3 linked regions of the Homo sapiens genome follow. The protein of the gene in region 3 interacts with the protein of the main gene of each other region in a biochemical or structural test. Each region holds a gene or a part of one and is shown on either strand. Other genes may lie near its edges. The genes, in order: PARK7, PRSS2 and CSN1S1.

The links.
Region 1: of the proteins of CSN1S1 (region 3) and PARK7, one has a biochemical effect on the other in vitro, tested with the Homo sapiens proteins (one study listed by BioGRID).
Region 2: of the proteins of CSN1S1 (region 3) and PRSS2, one has a biochemical effect on the other in vitro, tested with the Homo sapiens proteins (one study listed by BioGRID).

Annotation. Positions count from the first base shown.
Region 1 is NC_000001.11:7,957,234-7,964,777, reverse strand, and holds the start of PARK7 (Parkinson disease protein 7), read right to left. Parts: upstream 3,068-7,544; 5' UTR 2,985-3,067; exon of another isoform or gene 2,697-2,984; intron 2,016-2,696; 5' UTR 1,993-2,015; coding exon 1,903-1,992; intron 1-1,902. UniProt on the Homo sapiens protein: Multifunctional protein with controversial molecular function which plays an important role in cell protection against oxidative stress and cell death acting as oxidative stress sensor and redox-sensitive chaperone and protease.
Region 2 is NC_000007.14:142,766,590-142,773,995, forward strand, and holds the start of PRSS2 (trypsin-2 isoform 2 preproprotein), read left to right. Parts: upstream 1-4,380; 5' UTR 4,381-4,393; coding exon 4,394-4,433; intron 4,434-5,459; coding exon 5,460-5,619; intron 5,620-5,972; coding exon of another isoform or gene 5,973-6,014; intron 6,015-6,676; coding exon 6,677-6,930; intron 6,931-7,329; coding exon 7,330-7,406. UniProt on the Homo sapiens protein: In the ileum, may be involved in defensin processing, including DEFA5.
Region 3 is NC_000004.12:69,926,659-69,934,067, forward strand, and holds the start of CSN1S1 (alpha-S1-casein isoform 1 precursor), read left to right. Parts: upstream 1-4,409; 5' UTR 4,410-4,459; intron 4,460-5,885; 5' UTR 5,886-5,897; coding exon 5,898-5,948; intron 5,949-7,409. UniProt on the Homo sapiens protein: Important role in the capacity of milk to transport calcium phosphate. Casoxin D acts as opioid antagonist and has vasorelaxing activity mediated by bradykinin B1 receptors.

The sequences.
Region 1 (7,544 bases), on a different chromosome or scaffold from region 3:
GAAATACTGCTTTATCTTTCAAAAATTTTTAAAGTCAACAATACCAAGAGCTGGCACTGGGAAAGTGGGAATTTTCCTACACTGCTGGTGGGACTACAAACTGGGACACTGGAGAGCAACTTGGCAAAACCTAGTCATGCTGACTACAGGCTATCCTTCGGCCTAGTCATTCTACTTTTAGATATATAACCTGGAAAAATTTCCTCACATTTGCACAAAGAAACCTACACAAGAATACGTATTACAGAATTGTAATGCTGTAATTAGAGGAATGGGTAGATTGTGGCATTCAGTGCAACACCAAGCAGCAATTTTAAGTGGATAAACTTAATCGACATGTATCTTCATTTCTGAGAACCAGAGGAGTATAGGGTTAACAGACTCTGGGGCCAGGCTGCCTGGGTCTGAGTTCTGGCTTTTGTACTTACTACGTGATGTGGGTACATTATTTATGTCTCTGTGCCTCAGTTTCTTCAACTGTAAAATGAGGATGGTGATATCTAACTCACGACATTGTTGTAAGGTTTATCGGCACTTAGAATGCTGCCTGGCACAGAGTTAGTTCTACTTCACTTCACTGTTCACTATTTTTAGATAGAGAGAGATAATATATAAACACGCAAAATGAGAACCACGGTCAAATGCTACCTTAAAGACATGCGTGGGGGCGGGTGCAGTAGCTCACATCTGTAATCACAGCACTTTGGGAGGCCGAGGTGGGTGGATCACGAGGTCAAGAGTTCAAGACCAGCCTGGCCAAGATGGTGAAACCCCATCTACTAAAAATACAAAAAATTAGCCAGGCATGGTGGTGCGCACCTGTAATCCCAGCTACTTGGGAGGCTGAGGCAGAGAACTGCTTGAACCCAGGAGGCAGAAGTTGCAGTGAGCTGAGGTCACACCACTGCACTCCAGCCTGGGTGACAGAGCAAGACTCTGTCTTAAAAAAAAAAAAAAAGACACACATGCATGGATACACAAGAGTGCGAGGATAGCACTTATCTTTAAGGAAGGAAGAAGGGGCATAGGATTGGAGAAATTTACAAAGGGGGCTTCAAATGTATTTCTTTGAAGCATCTGCTCTTTAAGAAACGAGTCTGAGGGGCCGGGCATGGTGGCTCCTGCCTGTAATCCCAGCACTGTAAAAGGCTAAGGCGGGCGGGTCACTTGAAGCCAGGAGTTCGAGACCAACCTGGCCAACATGGTGAAACCCCATCTGTACTAAAAATACAATTAGCCGGGCGTGGTGGCGGACACCTGTAATCCCAGCTGAGGGTGAGGCAGGAGAATCTCTTGAACCCGGGAGGCAGAGGTTGCAGCGAGCAGAGATCACACCACTGCGTTCCAGGCTGAGCGACACAGAGAGACACCATCTCAAAAAAAAAAAAAAAGAAGAAAAAAGAAATGGGTCTAAGGACAGTGCAGTGGCTCACGCCTGTAGTCCTAACACTTTGGGAGGCCTGAGGCGGGTGGACAACTTGAGCTCAGGAGTTGGAGAGCAGCCTGGGCAACATGGCAAAACCCTGTCTCTACAAAACATACAAAAATTAGCCAGGTGTGGTGGCACGCATCTGTAGTCTCAGCTATTTGGGAGGCTGAGGTGGGAAGATGGTTTGGGCCCAGGAGGCAGAGACCGAAATGAGCCAAGATCCTGCCATCGCACTCCAGCCTGGACGACAGAGCTCAAAACAAAAGAGAAATGGGTCTGAAGGAAATATGGCAAGACATTAACAAGCGTTAAATGTGAGCAGTGGATCAACAGGTATTTATTCTTATGTCATCTCTGAAATTTTGTGTATATTTGAAATATTTCATAGAGCACTTTGAATATTTTATTCAAAATGATTTAAAAATCCAAAAACATTTAAAACAGGAATGGCTAAAAATCGATGTGGGACTTACCCCAGCTCGCCTCATGACATCTACAGGGATGACCGTCTCCATTTCCTCTGCTCCTTTAGCCAGGATGACCAGAGCTCTTTTGGAAGCCATTTTTATGTTATATGTTTACAAGCCTTAAAAAAAAAAAAAAAAAAAGATTTCAAAAAACTTTCATTGCAACCCTGAGATACCCCAAAATTTAAAGTTTAGGAGCATTTTCAAGCAGAGTAAGTACTTCCTAGGGAAACGGTTTTCATAGACAACTGAATACGAAAAAAGCAGCAGTTTAGTTATCTTAACGTTGATTTGTATAGCAGTTTTAATTGCTCTGAGATGAAAACATAATGAGGGTGCTAAAAGGTGTAGTATTGCTTAGATTTTCTTCTACCATGTTCTCTTAAATCCAACTTTAATAGTATGTTGCAAATGGGTTTTTTAAAAATACAAGTACGTGGGTCTCCTGCATTTCACACAATGCGGGGAAACAGTCTTTTTTGAAGCACTGTTTCAGAGAAACGACTAAACTGAATTTCATGGGCAAAAATTTAAATGTGGTCTTTCGCAATTAACTTGTAATTTTTTGGAGGGGATTTTTGTTTTCTTAGTTATAACTGTACTAAAAAATTGTGTGTGGGGGTCAACAGTGTTAAATGTCTGAACACTTTTTTTAATGACTGAGAAAGATGGAAATCCCCTCACTGAAGTCAACCCAACTACATCTGTCTCTCTGCGCGGAGTTCTCACTGCCAACGACAGCAGCTCAACGAGGTTCCGAATTTTTTTTAGCCTATTTACAGATTATCTGGAGGGTTTACCGTCCACGCAAAACAGAGTTTAATAAAACGGCTAGCCAGTTCCATGCCGGCGAGAGGTTAGGCAGAAGATTCTGGACGCTTCAGCGTTGCCACCACGCTGGCGGTCAGTCAAATCCAACGCCAGCGACAGGGCCCGACTGGGAGGCCGGAAGCGAGGGCGGCCCCGACCCAGGCCCCGCGCCGGTTCTGAGCCAGCGGGACACCGTCCAGCACAGGGACACCGTCCAGCACCCCCACGCCGCCCAGCGCCACGGCCCACACATGCGCCGCGCCCCCGCTGGCGCTGACCTGCACCCCGCGCCTCTTCCTGCGGACGCGGCGCCCCGGCCCGTTGGGTACCACTCACCCCACACCAGGCTGAAAATGAACGCACGCCAGCACGCACGCGCGCCGTCCGGCCTCCCTCAGCCCCACACTGCGCAGACTCACGCCGCCTTGGCCTCACGCTGCGTCACGTCCGGCCGAGTCTACCTCGGACTGAGGCGGGGGTGGCACCGGGGAGTTTCTAGCTGGACAGCCCTGGGTGAGGCGGCTCGGTCCCACATGGTACCCCCCACGAATGGCACAGTCCGGCCTGCCCCGGCGCCCGCGGGGCTTAACAGTCTCTACCGCCACCCTCCGTGAGGAGCCGGTCTCTGGAACTGCCGAGGGACTGGGGTTGTCAGAGGGGTTCCTTAGTTCGCGCTCCGTGCACGCCTGCTCCCTTTGCGTTGTTCCTTTTCTGGCGCGCCTTCCCGTTTCGCCTCTGGTCTGTTAGGACTCTGGTCCAGGCCTCCCGGACCTCTCCCCCACGCCTGGTCTCCCGATCTCGGGCGACTCTGCCGCATTTATTCACACCCGGATGTCTCAGGGGTGTGAGTTTTTTTCTCAGCATTGTTTGTTTTCTTTAACGATCCTGATGCTGCTGCACCCACAGGACTAGAGCAGTGCTGCGCACATAAGTCTAATAAGTACCAAGTTGGTCAGATGTATTTACATCATAATCTCAAGTTGTATTTATTGATATGTAAGAGACGTATGTGTTTTCTGGGTACATGTGGTATTTTGATACTTTCATATAATGTGTAATGATTAAATCAGGGTAAATGAGATCTCTATCACCTTAAACATTTGTCTTTATACTGGGAACATTCCAGTTACTCTCTTCAATAATAACATTTTAAAATATACAACAGATTACTGTTAACTATAGTCACCCTACAGAACTCTGCCAACGCTAGGTCTTATTCCCTCTTAAGGAGAGCACAGATCACCTGGTGACCATCAAGCAGGCCCCTTATCTGAGGAATTTAGAAGTAATTAGATATCCCTATTATCTAAAGTTGGCACCTGGTACCAGGTTAAATCAAAGGAAATAGTTAAAGCCCAAAATTCTTGAATGAGCTTAGAAGGATCCTGGCTAAATGAACGCAACTTGGATTGAATTTGCAAAAAATGAGACATTCGAAAAGGGACATGAAAAATCCACCGCGGCATGCTCAGTTCTCTCTTGCTGAGGCTGCACTCTTCTGCAGCGTTCTAATAAAACTTTCCTTTTTCAAACCTATATTGTTGTCGATAAATTCTTCTTACCAACCAGCAAGTCGACCACTTTCTGATGCTGGGGCTCTTGACACCTTGCCCAGCACTTCTACCAATTTTTGTACCTATTAATCACCCTGTTCATCCCCTTCTCCTGGCTACCCTTCCTGGCCTCTGGTAACCACCAACTTATCTTCATGATATCCACTTTTCAACTTCCCATTTATGAGTGAAATCATGTGATGCTTGTCTTTCTTTGCCTGGCTTGTTTCACTTAACATAATGACCTCCAGTTCCATCAATGTTGTTGCAAATAGGATTTTATTATTTTTTATGGCTGAATAGTATTCATTGTGTATATTTACATTTTATTTATCCAGTCATCCATTGATGAACATTTTGGTTGATTCCATATTTTGACTGTTGTGAACAGTGCTACAATAAGCATAGGAGTGCAAATATCTCTTTGATATATTGATTTTCTTTCTTTTTTTTTTTTTTTGAGACTCCATCTTGCTCTGTCGCCTAGCCTGAAGTGCAGTGGCACCATCTTGGCTCACTGCAACCTCTGCCTCTGTGTTGAAACAATTCTCGTGCCTCAGTCTTTCGAGTAGCTGAGACTACAGGTGTGTGCCACCATGCCTGGCTAATTTTTGTATTTTTAGTAGAGACAGGGTTTTACTATGTTGGCCAGGCTGGTCTTGAACTCCTGACCCCAAGTGATCTGCCTGCCTCGGCCTCCCAAAGTGCTGGGATTATAGGCGTGAGCTACCGTGCCTGGCCCTTCCTTTCTTTTTGGTATATACCGGTAGTGGGATTGCTGGATCATATGGTAGTTATGATTCCAGAACTTATGATTTCTCAGAAGTTAATCTTCTGAGGATTCCATATTGTTTTCCATAGTGGCTGCACTAATTGAGATGCTCGCCAACAGTGTATGAGGTTCCTTCTTCACATCCATCTCAGCATGTTATTCCCTTTTTGATAAAGGCCATTTTAACTGGGATGAGATGATATCTTACTGTCTTTATTTGCATTTCTCTGATTAGTGACATTGAGCCCTTTTTCATATCTCTTGGCCATTTGTATCTCTTCAGAAATGTCTATTCAGATCTTTTGCCCACTTTTAAATCTGATTGTTTTCTTGCTATTGAGCTCCTAATATATTCTAGTCATTAGTCCCTCATCAAATGGATAGTTTGCAAATATTTTCTCCCATTCTGTGTGTTGTCTCTTTGCTTTGTTGTTTCCTTTGCTGTGCATATACTTTTTAGTTTGATGTAATTCCATTTGTCTGTTTTTGCTTTTGTTGTCTGTGCTTTGAGGTCTTTGCCCAGATCAATACCCTGGAACATTTCCCCAGTGTTTTCTTTCTTTTCTTTTCTTTTTTTTTTTTTTTTGAGATGGAGTCTCGCTCAGCCGCCTAGGCTGGAGTGCAGTGGCGCAATCTTGGCTCACTGCAACCACTGTCTCCTGGGTTCAAGCGATTCTCTGTCTCAGCCTCCCGAGTATCTGGGATTACAGGCACCCTCCATCATGCCTGTCTAATTTTTGTATTTTAGTCCAGACAGGGATTCACCATGTTTCCCAGGCTGGTCTCGAACTCCTAACCTCAGGTGATCCACTTGCCTCAGCCTCCCAAAGTGCTGGGATTACAGGTGTGAGCCACCGTGCCTGGCCCCCCCCCCCCCAGTGTTTTCTTCTAGTAATTTCTTTTCTTTTCTTTTTTTTTTTTTTTTGAGACAGAGTCTCGCTCTGTTGCCCAGGCTGGAGTGCAATGGTGCAATCTCAGCTCATTGCAACCTCCGCCTCCCAGGTTCAAGCAATTCTCCCACCTCAGCCTCTAGAGTAGCTGGGATTGCAGGCACCTGCCATCATGCCTGGCTAATTTTTGTATTTTTAGTAGAGATGAGCTTTCACCATGTTGGCCAGGCTAGTCTCAAACTCCTGACCTCAAGTGATCTGCCCACCTCGGCCTCCCACAGTGCTGGGATTACAGGTGTGAGCCACAGCACCTGGCCTAAATACATCAGTGTTTTTAAGGTTTCAATTTAGATATTAAAATCGCGTTTCTGGCCAGGCGCGGTGGTGCGTGCCTGTAATCCCAGCACTTTGGGAGGCCAAGGTGGGCAGATCACGAGGTCAAGAGATCGAGACCATCCTGGCCAACATGGTGAAACCCGGTCTCTACTAAAAATACAAAAATTAGCTGGGCATGGTGGCTTGCACCTGTAGTCCCAATTACTCGGGAGGCTGAAGCAGGGGAATTGCTTGAACCTGGGAGGCGGAGGCTGAAGTGAGCTGAGATCGCACCACTACACTCCAGCCTGGGTGACAGAGCGAGACTCTTGTCTCAAAAAAAAAAAAAAAATCACGTTTATTTTCTTTGTTTTGTTTTTGTTTTTGTTTTGAGACAGAGTCTTGCTCTGTCATCCAGGCTGGCGTGTAGTGGCACCATCTCGGCTCACTGCAACCTCTGTCTCCCAGGTTCAAGCAATTCTCGTACCTCAGTCTCCCGAGTAGCTGGGACTACAGGCGTGCACCATCATGCCCAACTAATTTTTGTATTTTTATTAGAGACGGGGTTTCACCATGTTGGCCAAACTGGTCTCAAACTCCTGACCTCAAGTGATCTGCCCACCTCGGCCTCCCAAAGTGCTGGGATTACAGTTGTGAGCCACTGCACCTGGCCACATTTATTTCAAGAAATAAATTTTTTGTTAGTTTACAAAGCACTTTGGTATATTTCATGTGATTCTTACAATGATGGTGAGTGTGTTATTTTATTTAATTTTAAAAATTGGAGCTGTGCGGGGTGTCTCATCCCAACACTCTGGGAGGCCGAGGCGGGAGGATTGTTTGAGCCCAGGAGTTGGGGACCAGCCTGGACAACATGGCAAGACCCTGTCTCTACAAAAAATTTTAAAAATTACACGCCTATGGGTCCCAGCTACTTGAGAGGCTGACAGCGCAGCGGGGGAATCACTTGAGCCCAGGAGGTCAAGGCTGCAGTGGGTCATGATCTCATGCCACTGCACTCCAGGCTGGATGACAGAGTGAGACTGTGTCTCTAAAAAAAAAAAAAAAAAATGTGAATAATTGATGAACACTGAACTTGTGCAAAAGTCTGAAATGTCTTTAATCATATGACATTTAAGAAGAAACTTTTAGGAGTTCTGGAATGACTTCACTTTTGGCTATTTGCAAAGGAAGCAGCTGTGAAGGAGTGTGGAAAACAGGAATGACAGAGAAAGAGGAAAGACAAGTGGTCAGATGTGTGCTTCTAGAACCAAGGAGGGATACAGTTAGATGGAAGGAAAACCAAAA
Region 2 (7,406 bases), on a different chromosome or scaffold from region 3:
TTCATGGGGTACATGTGCAGGTTTGTTACATGGGTATACTGTGTGATGCTGAGGTTTGGGGCACAAATGATCTCCTCACTCAGGAACTGAGCACAGTACCCAATAGGTATTTTTTCAGCCCTTTCCACACTCCTTCTCTCTTCCCTCTAGTAGTTGCAGTGTCTACTCTTCCCATCTTTACATCCATTTTTACCCAATGCTCAGCTCCGACTTATACATGAGAACGTGATATTTGGTTTTCTGTTCCCATGTTAATTTGCTTAGGATTATGGTCTCCAGCTCCATCCATGTTGCTGCAAAGGACATGATTTCATTCTTTTCATGGCTGCATAGTATTCCATGGTGTATATGTACCACATTTTCTTTATCCAGTCTACCGCTGATGGCCACCTAGGTTGATTCCATGGCTTTGCTACTGTGAATAGTGCTGTGATGGACATGCAAGAGCATGAGTCTTTTTGGCAGAACAATTACTTTCCTTTAGGTAAATGCCCAATAAAGCAAGTGCTGGGTGGAAAGATAGTTCTGTTTTAAATTGTTTCAGAAATCTCCAAACGGTTTTCTACATTAATTTTTCCATGAACTGATTTACACTCTGGCCAACAGTGTACAAGCATTCCCTTTCCACTGCAGCCTCATGAGCATCTTCTATTCTGTGGACATTTTAATAATAACCACACTGCAGCCAAGCTCTTTCAAGCCCAATGTGGGGAACAGCCACAAACATCCCTTTTCCCAACGAGAATTCTTGCCTGCCCACTGGTAGAATTCTTGTTTTCAGCTGTCTTTCATTGTTTGCTTTTCAAAGAAAAACCAAAGGTAAAGTGGTATGATCTTCCACACGTGAACCAGTTTGTAGCCACCAGAGCCTGCTGGGAAGGGGCCCCTCACGCATGCATTGATCTTGTCATGTGGAATTTGAGAGATCTAGAAGCCCCACAGCAACCTACCATACAACTGCCTATCAGCGCTCATCCTTTCACAGGATTAGCTCAATTCTGGCTCTGCAGACACTGGCAGCCACGGGTGAGAAACCCTGGGCCTCTGTGGGCTTCCTTCATCACCCAGGGCCACAGTGGGCTGCCTGTCCTAGGCAGAGACACAGCAACATTCTCTTAAGCTGAAATTAAGCATAAACCCACTTCACCAATAATCATCTGAGGGCACAGTCCCTGCCTCCTTCCTTGGGGATTTTAAAACACACATCTCTCTGACCAAACAGGTAGGTGAGATCTGACTTTAAAGGGGGGAAAGTGGGATGAATTGGGGTATCAGGAATGAATCCCAAGTGTTTTTGTGTGGCGAATGGCATCCACATCCCAAAATATACTTGGAGATGGGGAAAAAAGCAGGAGAGGAGAAGGGTAAAAAAGGAGGACAAAGTGTCTGAAAGTCATTGAAAGCTTCTCTCATGGTTCTTTCTGGCTCTGGTTGCTTTGCCAAGGTCTTGAGTGCAGGCAGGGCTGGCTCTGGCTGGGAGCTGCTGCTCTGGAACATGGAAGAGTCACTTCACCTTCAGAAAGCTCATTTGCTCATCTGTAAAGTGGGCAATTCCATAGGTGGTTGTGATGATAAAATGAAAAAAAAGTTCTTAACTTATATGAGTGACATGCTGTATAGTAAGTTACATGCTATATAGGAAGCACACAGAAATGATTCACTGTTATGATAATGGAAGGACAGTGGTTTGGCATGTTAAGCACTAAACACAAGCCAGAAAGATATCTTAGAGAAGTAGACAAAGAAATCTATAGTTCAGAATGAACAGTACCAAGAATGACATGTCCCCCAAATTGAGCATGGGTAGCTGGATCTGAACCTATCCTACACATCTGAGTCTACAGTATGAGGTAACAGTCTTCACCTATAGCTATCTCCTCTGCCTGTAAGGTCATTCCTTTTTGAAGAAAGCTGACCTCAGACTATACTGTGATCGCTTAAGGAAGAGCACAAAATACTGGAGAAGGCTAGTCTTCAAGCTCTAGATACAGAAAATCCTCAATTCTTGGGTGTTACCTTTCAGAAAAAGAGTCAGAGCTACAAGCCCTGATCCAAAAATCCCTTTTTCCAAAAAAATTCTCCATCTTCTACCAAGGTTCACCTCCCTGTTTAGTGCACACTGGTGTCTATAGTTGCTAGAGCAAGAGTCTCTCCTTATCCTCTAAGGCAGGAGTTCTGTGAAGACCCCATGACAAGGGGACAAAATGAAATAACATGTTCAGCGACAACACAGCAAAACCCCATATTATCAATGCTCTAAAACCTAGCTACCTCAGGCTTGGCCAGTTATTCATGAGCAGAGAGGTGTGTCATCTACATGGCAGTCATGGCCTGGATGGGTCTGGAACTGTGGCAAGGTAAGGCTCTGAGAAAAGGTGCCAGGAGAAAGATGAATTCAATCATCTATTTCTGCCAGGAAGAAAAGCACCAGGAAGGAATCAGATGTACAGTTTGTCCTCTGGGGACCTCTGCCTTGATCCTCAATAAATCTCCTTTTAGATGCCACGTGCAGCAATTCCCACACTTCACAATGCTCTCCATGGCTTCTGTTGGCCTTATGGTCAGCTCTGCCAAGATCTGTATTCTTGGGCAAGACAGAATCCTTCTGAATCTCAGTCTCTTCCTCTATAAATGGAAATAATTTTGCTCCACACAAGTCACCATTAGCACGTTGGTGGGAAGTTAAACTGCGAAACTCAGCATAAACAAAGAGCAATGTACCACTGTTGCTTACGTGAAAACTCCCGTGAAGCAGTCAGGCACCATGCACCATCTAAGCATAGCAGCGTTAGGTATCAGCCTATTAGTGATTAGAGAGGGTACCGGGGAGAGAGGGGGCCTCAGAGCAGTGGGTCTCCTGGCTGTGGGGAAGCTGCCTCAGTGGCCATGCCAGGAGCTGAACCTGAAGGTACTCTGTGTGTCCTCTCAACACCATGGACCCTATTTTGGTATTTTTTTCCAGTTACCTCTGGTTTCCATTTGCTTCCTCCCTCTAGCCCCCTGGCCATGTCCGATTTCTCCAGCAAGTTTCTGAGCTTTTCTCATTTTGCTCACTGTCTCCAGAACATCCCTGCTTCTTTTACCTTTCAAAGAATTCAAACTTGAACTCTGCTCACTCCTGCCCATCACCAACATTAGCTCAGAGTTGATGAGAAGGGAAAGCACCCTCATAAGGAAGCCCCTCCTTTCCTTACATTATTAGACCTGAGCGCAGACAGCATCTCCATCTCCACACTGCTCTGGCCAGGTTATGCCTCAGTCAATTACACGACTGTATCTTAGTACCCTTGGTAGGGCTCAAATCAGGATATTCTCTAGAAAGATTCACTTAGTACTGAGCCAAGTATAATCTCACTACATCTAAAATAGAAAATTCTAGACCCACCCCTCCACATCTTTGTTATTGAACCCAATATGTCACCCATTTACCATGTGCTCAAATCCCTACCTACTGCTGATTCTCAGATCAAATCATAACCCAGATTTACCATGGTCCAAACTCTGACATGTGATCAGGGGCATGTCATTCTGGTTCAGGCTGTCAGCCCCAAGCAGGTGGGTCAGTTTCAATCACCCTGAGTGCAGGTTGCAAGGGCAACCATGAGGCTGCATAAAAAGAACCTATGACAGGATGCACATGAGAGACAAATGTCTTCACATTGAAGAAGGGGAGGAGTGCGCCATTGGTTTTCCATCCTCCAGATGCACTGAGTAAGCTCCTACCTAACCTGTGCCCCCTCCTTCTTCTCATCCCTATGCCGTGGTAGGAGGGAGAGCCATCTTCAAGCCCAGCATCCTATGGAATGCTGAGTCTCTCTTCTCCTTACCCCTTAATGTTGGAATTCTCATTCCCCAAAGCCTTGGATTTGACTTTCCCACTGAGTGACTGGAGAGAAGCATCTTCATATTCACAGGAACAAGCCTTAGTTAGATAAGACTTTGCCCCTCTCCTGGGAGCTCCAGGACACTAAAAAGCCAAGCTTGCTACCAACACTTGCCCTTCCTTAAGTACATTAAATATAACCCCAATAGTAAAATATATTCCTAAACAGCCAGGCCATTCTCCCTCCTTCTAACCCTCATCTCCTCGGCCTAAGAAAGCCCAGCTGTGTGATCTGGGGCTTGGCTTCCCCTGTCTTTCCCATATCAGCATCCTTCCAGGAAACAGCCGGTCTCCCTCTCTGCTCTCAGAAGGCAAGTTTCCTTATCACCTGTGAATCACAAACCCACAGAGTGGCCAAACATACTGATGCAAGACCATAGGAAGGGGAAAGCTGCAGGTGTGTTTGTGCTGGGAGGAGCAGTGACCCTCACCTCACAGACACCTCCTCTCCCCATCCTCGGGAGGTATAAAGACGGGTTCTCCACCAGCAATCAGGCACACTCTACCACCATGAATCTACTTCTGATCCTTACCTTTGTTGCAGCTGCTGGTGAGTTTCACGCCCTGCCTCAGGCCTCAACCAACCCTTCCCTGGCAGACACATGCCCTGCCATTCTTGCCACCTCTCCTCTTTTGACTGTGCTGTGATATTCTATTTCCTCCATCTGGCATTTCTTCTTCCCATCCTCCTTGGGCTCTTTTTAAGCCTCACTTGTTCCACCTTCTCCTTGATTTCACTCCCACCGCTGTTATTCATCCATATCCGAGCTGTGGTTGGAGAAGCTGGGAAGGGAGACCAGGTGGGGCTGGCCCATGAAATGAAGCAGTAGGCTTCAGGCTTGGCTCTGACAGCACCACAATAGCACCACTATAGCTGCTCTTAACCTCGAATGCACCTGGGGAGGTTGAAATTACTCATGCAAGACACTCAACTCTAGAAATTCTCACTTCAATTGTCTGGTGTGCAGCCTGTGTTCTGGGCTTTTAAGCTTCCCAGGTGATTTTTAACATTTCTAGGCATGCAGCCAAGGTTAAGAATTGCTGTTGTTTTGACCAATAATAACGTATACCTTTGTTCTGCAAAAGTGAGCCTGGGGCTTCCCTCAACTCTGCCCTCACTGGGCAGATTTGAGCTGAGGGGGAAACTGGTCATGGCCAAGTCGATGTCGCCAGGGGGTTTTCCTAGCTTGGCCAAAGTAGCCAGACAATCCGGGGCTTAAATAACCAGGTGGAGTACACAGGTGGTGAATAAAAGAGAGAAGACTTCAGTGCTTGAGACAGCCACATCCCAAATCCTATCCCACTGGAAGTATTGTGAGGATATTCCTTGCGTCCTCAGCCTGGTGACCCCAGGAGAGATCTGAACCCCCACAGGGTACCTAGCTACGTGCCCTGCAGACACAGAGACTTGGGAGCCACATCCAGTGATGATCACCAGGGCTGGCAGCGCTCCCCCCCTTGCCTAGCCTCACTGAGCTTGTTAAGGTTTTCTAATTAGCAGGAAGCAGCCACAGGCTGGGAGCGCCACCCCTAACATGCTACTGACTTGCCTTCTCCCTTCCCATCTCCACTCCAGTTGCTGCCCCCTTTGATGATGATGACAAGATCGTTGGGGGCTACATCTGTGAGGAGAATTCTGTCCCCTACCAGGTGTCCTTGAATTCTGGCTACCACTTCTGCGGTGGCTCCCTCATCAGCGAACAGTGGGTGGTGTCAGCAGGTCACTGCTACAAGTCGTAAGTGTGGGGCCCCTGACTGCAAAACTCCCAGCCAGGCTGCCTGGGAGAGCTTGGATTCAGCCCAGGGAAGTACTGAGGTTGGGTAGGACGGACGAGAGAGATGGTGGAAAAGAAAACTTGTTGGCAGCAGCTGACTCTCCAGAGCAGAGAGTGAACACAAGACAGGAAGCCCTCACACCCAGGCAAATCCATGAAACAGCAAGGGTTGTGGTCATAAAAGCAGGCAGGGATGATCTTGGGGTGGTGAGAGCTAGTGAGAAGAGCAGGCTAGTACTTTTGCTGGTTAGCTACACATTAAAGCCACCTAAGAATGAGTACTTAAAAATACTGATCCCTGTGTTCTATCCCAGGGCAATTAACTCAAAATTATCAGGAAGAGGGTGTGAATATCAGTGAGTATTTCACACTCTACCTCTGGTAACTGTAGAGTGTATAGACAGAGCTGAGAACTGCTGCCTACACCAAGAACTCTTAAACCTGAGTATGCATCAGAACTCCCTGCAGGCTTGTTAAGGCACAAATCACTGGGACCCATCCCCAAGGTTCTGATCAGTAGGTGGGGGTAAGGACCAAGAACTTACATTTCTAACAAATTCCCAGGAGATGCTAATGCTATGGCTACCCTTGGATTAGATTACACAGAAGGGTGGTGCTCACCAGGCCAAGAATGGAGGGAGGAGCAGGCACTGTGCACAGTTAGCAAAGGCCTGGAGTGAAGAATGTTGGGAAAACTTCAAGGAGCTCCTTGTGCCCACAGTGCTAGTGACATGGAGATTATGGGAAAGAGTCTGGGAAGGCAGATTGAGGAGCAGCCTCTGGTGGGATCCCTTTGACTCTTCCCCACTCCACTACCACCAACCTCTGAAGCAGAAAGGTCCTGGGTTTCACACCTGCACTGACCCACATTGCTCTCCTGCCCATGCAATATGGCCACACACCCCACCCCATGCCTCCAGAGCTGTCCATGAGCAGGGAGCTTAAGGACCCATGGAAAGGTGGGAGGGGTGCCCTGGCTGTGGGAGAAGGTCTTCACCATGCCTGCCCTGCCCATCAGCCGCATCCAGGTGAGACTGGGAGAGCACAACATCGAAGTCCTGGAGGGGAATGAACAGTTCATCAATGCGGCCAAGATCATCCGCCACCCCAAATACAACAGCCGGACTCTGGACAATGACATCCTGCTGATCAAGCTCTCCTCACCTGCCGTCATCAATTCCCGCGTGTCCGCCATCTCTCTGCCCACTGCCCCTCCAGCTGCTGGCACCGAGTCCCTCATCTCCGGCTGGGGCAACACTCTGAGTTCTGGTGGTGAGTGGGACCCTTTGTCCTTCTACTTCCCTCCATCCCACAATTTCCAGAACAAACCATGCCCCTTAACTTAAATCCTCTCGCCTCCAGGCTTAAGACACATTTCTAGTGCCCATTACACACAGGCTCTGCACTGGGCACCAGAGAGATGCAAATTCTCAAGGATGTGGCTCCTAAAATCAAAAGACAGGACAAATGGAGAACTTGCTATGATCACTTCGTGGGAGAGGTTCAACAATGATCATTCTGGGAACTAAAAGCCAGAGTCCCTTGCCAGGACTTATGTTTTGGAGTCCTCTCCAGGGGCAGTGTTCCTCTTCAATGTTCCATCCTAGACTATTGTCTCTTTCTCTGGCCTAACCCACATTTCTTTCTTTGTTCTCTTCCTGATCCTCACAGCCGACTACCCAGACGAGCTGCAGTGCCTGGATGCTCCTGTGCTGAGCCAGGCTGAGTGTGAAGCCTCCTACCCTGGA
Region 3 (7,409 bases):
TGACAGGCATGACGCACCATGCCTGGCCACATTACAGATTTTAAAAACCCTGGATTTTGAGTTCATGAAAATTTCCAGAGCTGTTATGTAAATTCACTAAGAGGTGGTTTGCCTTATGATGTAAATTAGACATTTGTCATTGTTTAATTGATCCCCTGTGATGTCAAGGCTTCTTATTATCAAATTCATCTAAGGGGCCTTGTCTGGTATGGCCCACAGTCTTAGTTGTCCTCAGGTACTCCATACTCCGGAGGCCCTGTTCAAATCTCTGTTTTTGGACTATTTGTAAAAATTAAAATTCTTTACTTTTTGTGTGTTAATTATCCATCACACTTTGAGGCTGGAAATTTTGTATTGCTCAAATTTTATGTCTGCAATACCTTGTCCAGCACTTTCATCTTTCTGAATAAATAAGTAAATAAATGAATAAACAAATGAGGATACAGATTCTTTTCATAAATTACAGAAGATTTTTATATAGCTTGATTTTTTTCTTTTTTTATTATTATACTTTAAGTTCTAGGGTACATGTGCACAATGTGCAGGTTTGTCACATATGTATACATGTGCCATGTTGGTGTGCTGCACCCATTAACTCATCATGTACATTAGGTACATCTCCTAATGCTATCCCTCCCTCCTCCCCCACCCCACGACAGGCCCCTGTGTGTGATGTTCCCCTTCCTGTGTCCAAGTGTTCTCATTGTTCAATTCTCACCTATGAGTGAGAACATGTGGTGTTTGGTTTTCTGTCCTTGCAATAGTTTGCTGAGAATGACGGTTTGCAGCTTCATCCATGTCCCTACAAAGGACATGAACTCATCCTTTTTTATGGCTGCATAGTATTCCATGGTGTATATGTGCCACATTTTCTTAATCCAGTCTATTATTGTTGGTCATTTGGGTTGGTTCCAAGTCTTTGTTATTGTGAATAGTGCCGCAATAAACACACGTGTGCATGTGTCTTTATAGCAGCATGATTTATAATCCTTTGGGTATATTCCCAGTAATGGGATGGCTGGGTCAAATGGTATTTCTAGTTCTAGATCCTTGAGGAATTGCCACACTGTCTTCCACAATGGTTGAACTAGTTTACAGTCCCACCAACAGTGTGAAAGTATTCCTATTTCTCCACATTCTCTCCAGCACCTGTTGTTTCCTGACTTTTTAATGATCACCATTCTAACTGGTGTGAGATGGTATCTCATTGTGGTTTTGATTTGCATTTCTCTGATGGCCAGTGATGATGAGCATTTTTTCATGTGTCTGTTGGCTGCATAAATGTCTTCTTTTGAGAAGTGTCTGTTCATATCCTTCACCCACTTTTTGATGGGGTTGTTTGTTTTTTTCTTGTAAATTTGTTTGAGTTCTTTGTAGATTCTGGATATTAGCCCTTTGTCAGATGAGTAGATTGCAAAAATTTTCTCCCATTCTGTAGGTTGCCTGTTCACTCTGATGGTAGTTTCTTTTGCTGTGCAGAGGCTCTTTAGTTTAATTAGATCCCATTTGTCAATTTTGGCTTTTGTTGCCATTGCTTTTGGTGTTTTAGACATGAAGTCCTTGCCCTTGCCCATGCCTATGTCCTGAATGGTATTGCCTAGGTTTTCTTCTAGGGTTCTTATGGTTTTAGGTCTAATATTTAAGTCTTTAATTCATCTTGAATTAATTTTTGTATAAAGTGTAAGGAAGGGATCCAGTTTCAGCTTTCTACACATGGCTAGCCAGTTTTCCCAGCACCATTTATTAAATAGGGAATCCTTTCCCCATTTCTTGCTTTTGTCAGGTTTGTCAAAGATCAGATGGTTGTAGATGTGTAGTGTTAATTCTGAGGGCTCTGTTCTGTTCCATTGGTCTATATCTCTGTTTTGGTTCCAGTACTATGCTGTTTTGGTTACTGTAGCCTTGTAGTATAGTTTGAAGTCAGGTCATATGATGCCTCCAGCTTTGTTCTTTTGGCTTAGGACTGACTTGGCAATGCGGGCTCCTTTTTGGTTCCATATGAACTTTAAAGTACTTTTTTTTCCAATTCTGTGAAGGAAGTCATTGGTAGCTTGATGGGGATGGCATTAAACCTGTAAATTACCTTGGGCATTATGGCCATTTTCACAATATTGATTCTTCCTATCCATGAGCATGGAATGTTCTTCCATTTGTTTGTGTCCTCTTTTATTTCATTGAGCAGTGGTTTGTAGTTCTCCTTGAAGAGGTCCTTCACATTCCTTGTAAGCTGGATTCCTAGGTATTTTATTCTCTTTGAAGCAATTGTGAATGGGAGTTCACTCGTGATTTGGCTGTTTGTCTGTTATTGGTATAAGAATGCTTGTGATTTTTGTACATTGATTTTGTATCCTGAGACTTTGCTGAAGTTGTATATCAGCTTAAGGAGATTTTGGGCTGAGATGATGGGATTTTCTAAATATACAATCATGTCATCTGCAAACAGGGACAATTTGACTTCCTCTTTTCCTAATTGAATGCCCTTTATTTCCTTCTCTTGCCTGATTGCCCAGGCCAGAACTTCCAACACTGTTGAATAGGAGTGGTGAGAGAGGGCATCCCTGTCTCGTGACAGTTTTCAAAGGGAGTGCTTCCAGTTTTTGTCCATTCGGTATGATACTGGCTGTGGGTTTGTCATAAATAGCCCTTATTATTTTGAGATATGTCTCATCAATCCCGAATTTATTGAGAGTTTTTAGCATGAAGGGCTATTGAATTTTGTCAAAGGCCTTTTCTGCATCTTTTGAGATAACCATGTGGTTTTTGTCCTTGGTTCTGTTTATATGCTGTATTACGTTTATTGATTTTTGTATGTTGAACCAGCCTTGCATCCCAGGGATGAAGCCCACTTGATCATGGTGGATAAGCTTTTTGATGTGCTGCTGGATTTGGTTTGCCAGTATTTTATTGAGGATTTTTGCATCGATGTTCATCAGGGATATTGGTCTAAAATTCTTTTTCTGTTGTGTCTCTGCCAGGCATTGATATCAGGATGATGATGGCCTCATAAAATGAGTTAGGGAGGATTTCCTCTTTTTCTATTGATTGGAATAGTTTCAGAAGGAATGGTACCAGCTCCTCCTTGTACCTCTGGTAGAATTCGGCTGTGAATCCATCTGGTCCTGGCCTTTTTTTTGGTTGGTAGGTATAGCTTGATTTTGAGTTAGGAGTAAAATAAATCAGTTTTCCTGGGTACACTTCTGGGAAAAGACAAAACCAAGGTACTGTAATACAGCTGATGCTTGTCTCAGCCTCTTAAATGAATCACAGTGAATAGGAAACACTAGTAAGTTGTTGAAATTTATGTGATGTAGTCAGTAAGGAAAACACTAACTAAAGAGAACTTTAATATGGAAAAGTACATCTCTTCTGATCCCCAATCTGAAATTAACCAGTCTGAAATGTGTGTTAACCCAGAATAATGCCCTTTTCATATGACTGTGAAAAGGCTGTAAATATCATTACTATTTTTTTATTTCCTAAAATATATAGTATGATTCTTTTCCTGTAAAAAAGCAAAGTCGCAGTCAACAACAATTTTTAAAAACCCTCTCTATTACAGATATTTTCCTCAGGATATAGTATTTTTCTACATTGTATAATGATAGTTAACATAAAGGAACAGAGTCTGGGATAGGAGAGAGGCATTTTCATTTCTTTCCTTTATTTACTTTTAAAAAACAGGAAATCAGAGGTATGGCATAATTTTCCAAAATCTTTTAAAATTAAAATTAATGAATAAATATTACTTCTAATTAGTCAATGTTATAATTTGTTAAATAAATACTATCACAACCAATATGCCTAAAAGAAAGCAAACAAAAAATTGTCTGCTGTAGCTTAAATATCACCAAAACACATAGGACAGTTGGATATCCTTCTTTGAAAAAAAGATCAGAGCATATACAGTATAAGTTAATCCATAAAGCAGATAGTCACAATAAATAATAGAGGACAAGCTGCATTTTAAAAGGTAAATAAATGATGAATTCTTTTAATGGCCTGGTACACTGATAGAAATTGGAACGTTTCTAAGACCCTATTTTGTCCCCAGGATTTCCATTATAGGAATTGAATTTTTCAAAAGATATACAGAGAATTTTATTAATATGTTCCTGTCAAATTATCCCTTCAACATAAAATCATGTTTTTATAATAGCCATAAATTTGGAAATTTTTGTATTTTAATTTGCAATAATGCCACTTTATTTCTTGTGTAATCTGTTATCATAGCATGAATCACTCCCTGTTGAAAATTCTCAGAATTTCCTGGGAAAGGAATTGGACAGAAAATTAGTTTCCTATTTGGGAGAATTCTTAGAATTTAAATAAACCTATTGGTTGAACTGAAACCACAAAATTAGCATTTTCTAATTACCACATTTAAATAGCGTAAAGCAAAGAGATCGGCCATCATCTTGGTCATCAACACAACTTGCTTCTCTCCAGACTTGGGCTTAAGGTACTGCGTTTACATACAGCAAAATTGCTATCATTTTACATTATCTAATCTCTTTCTTCCACTGTTTACTAAGTATATTTGTACCATTTCCATATGTTTGCAAATATTAAAACTTCTTATGATTTTCTGGCACCTTAAAAATCCTTTTGCAAATTCTGATACCATTTTACAGCTTTAGGTGATGAATCAATACAGTTTTATAAAAATACCAAATCATTTTTTGATAATTTTGTAACTAAAATATATTTTTAAAGTTGATACATAATTTCAGTAGAGGCTTGGGGTAAGCTAATTTAAATTATTTTTACCTAATTCTATGAGAAGTTGTTATGCAAATAATTTCTTATTTTTGTAATTACCATAGCAAAAACCATTTCTAGCAGAATAGTTCAAGGCCATTTTTGTTTCATGTCATTTGGGCAACAAAATTAACTCTACAATGTGAATATCTATTATAGATAATTAGCTATTGATGGCTACTTTGTAATGATTATTAAATTTAGATATTCAGAAAGACACAAATAGTAAATTTATTTGGGTTCAAAAATATGCCTTTTTTATTAACACATTTAGATTCTAAAATTTGTAGACTGAAGCAATATATATAAATGTCAGCATTTGTATGTTGATTAAGGTGTGAACAAATAGTATGTGTGACCTGATTTTTTTTCTAATGATTTCTCTGGAAACCATTTTCCCAGTACATGTGGATGTCCATATTTCGGGGTTCTTGCAATTTAATGAAACTCTGGAAATCAAATATAAGACATGTCAATATTTTGATTCTATCCAATTCAATCATCTTTATATATTTATGTCATGAATATTCCAATGTAGCAAAACACGAAGTTATGGCTAGATTCTTTATTTAAAAATTGAAAGAGATCAATAGCTTTTACATAACGTGCAGACAGGATTTTTCATGAAGACTCTAAAAGAAAAGAATGCTCTCAAATAGATTTAAAAGAGAAGCTCATTTTCAAAACTTTTCAATAAAATTAAATTCCAGTTCTCAGTGGATTTAACTTTATTGCCCACTTTAGAAAATCTGATTTGTCATCTAGGAGGAAAAGTGTTTTCTTTTTTCAATTGTATTTCAATATTAGCACTTCTTTATTTCTCTAAGCCATATTATTACATTAAGAACAAAATGTTATGTTTTAAAGTGTTAGTGAAGAAAAATGTTTGTAAGAAATTAGTATTTCTAAATAATATAAGAACTAAGAAAAATAACTAGAATGGTAAACATTGATATTGAGTAGTAAAGTTTTTAAAATCTTAAGTTTATAAAAATTCACATTACAGCTCCTCAAATCAGCCTACTTTTATCATAATTTGCTCCTTTGTTGAAAAATCAAGAATTTTTTTCAGGAAACAAATTTAACGTAATAATATCTAACTCTTTCTTTTTTGTTCTCTTACATAGGCTCTGATAACCATGAGGCTTCTCATTCTCACCTGTCTTGTGGCTGTTGCTCTTGCCAGGCCTGTAAGTTCAGTAGAGAATTTAGAAAGTCTTAGACTCTTGTTAGAAATGACCTGACACTTCATCAAACATAGGATACCCAGAGAAATAATCTTAAAGCACTGGATGATCTCTAATTGGCCTCTGAAGTCTTGACAATAGAAATGCAGTAATGCTTCACATTTTCATCATTATTGCATAGTCCACTGAGAGCCTTAACTCTGAATAAAATGTCTGACTTGAATTATAAGCACCCCACAATAAAAAAGAGCTAAAAATTTAAAAGTAAGAAAAAGAATAAGGTAATGCACAACATAATAAATAGCAACAAACAATGTGATTAGGCCTGTTCCTTGAGTCTACTACAAAATTCTCATATTTCTAAAAATGTAATAGTTGTCCAACATTTCTTTACCAAATATAACACAAAGCCACATGTTCCAATGTATCCTACTTTTGGAATCAAAATCAAACCCTTATTTGAGATGGCTTGTGTCAACTTTTCTTCCCCCAAGAAGGGATAGAAAACTAGGGTGATTCAGCTAATTGAGTGATCAATTTATTGTGGTCACTGTAGACAATGAAACTAGATAATGTGAATTAAAATTACCTTTCTTCTCAAAAAGAGTGTTTATATCAATTAGATAAGTATGTGAACCAAAAAGTTTTCTCTGTTCTCTCCTGTTATGTGTAGTTAATGAATGAGAAGAATAAACAGGAATCACCTGACTGGAAAAAACATCAGTTTAGAGGGATGATAAGGGATATTTGGACACTGAAATTATCTCATACAGAAGAAAAATTTCTGAAATGCAGATATAGCCTGTCATTTACACTGACAGACTTGTTCTCTAAATTCTCCTTTGGAAAGTGCAGAATCAGGAATTGTCAACTTCTGAACCAATAGTCTTTGTTTATGCTATAAACTAAGCATCAATAGAAAGAAATCTCTGCTTGCAAGTTACCAAAACAATGATAAAACTTCCTCAGGAATGAACTGTCTGAGCAGTTCTTATCTTGTCATTCTACCAGGAAGTGGGGAAAAGCAGCCCAGAAAATAGATGTTACACTTTTATTCCAAAGCAAACAATAGGGTTCTTTATTTGTTTATGTCACTGTTTAACGTGGTCTTGTCTCCACACTCAAAATGCAGAATGAGATCAATTTTCGTATAATTTAAGTGATGATAAAAATAAAACCCAGAAAGCGTTTGAATTAGGAAATTATATTTTGCCCAACATTTTTTATACTAGTTTAAAATCATCTTTAGAACTATGGTGTAATATATATAGTTCAGAAAACTAAATAAATTGTTTATTATTCTGGATTCAAACTAACCCAGAATTTTTACTTTTTTAAAGATGTTTTACATAGTTTTCTCAACTACCAGCCATAATCTAAAGAAAGGAAATGATTATTTTCCTTTGATATTTGTCTAAAAATAATTATGATTTCTTTTTTTTTCCCTGTAGTCCCAGAGAAACT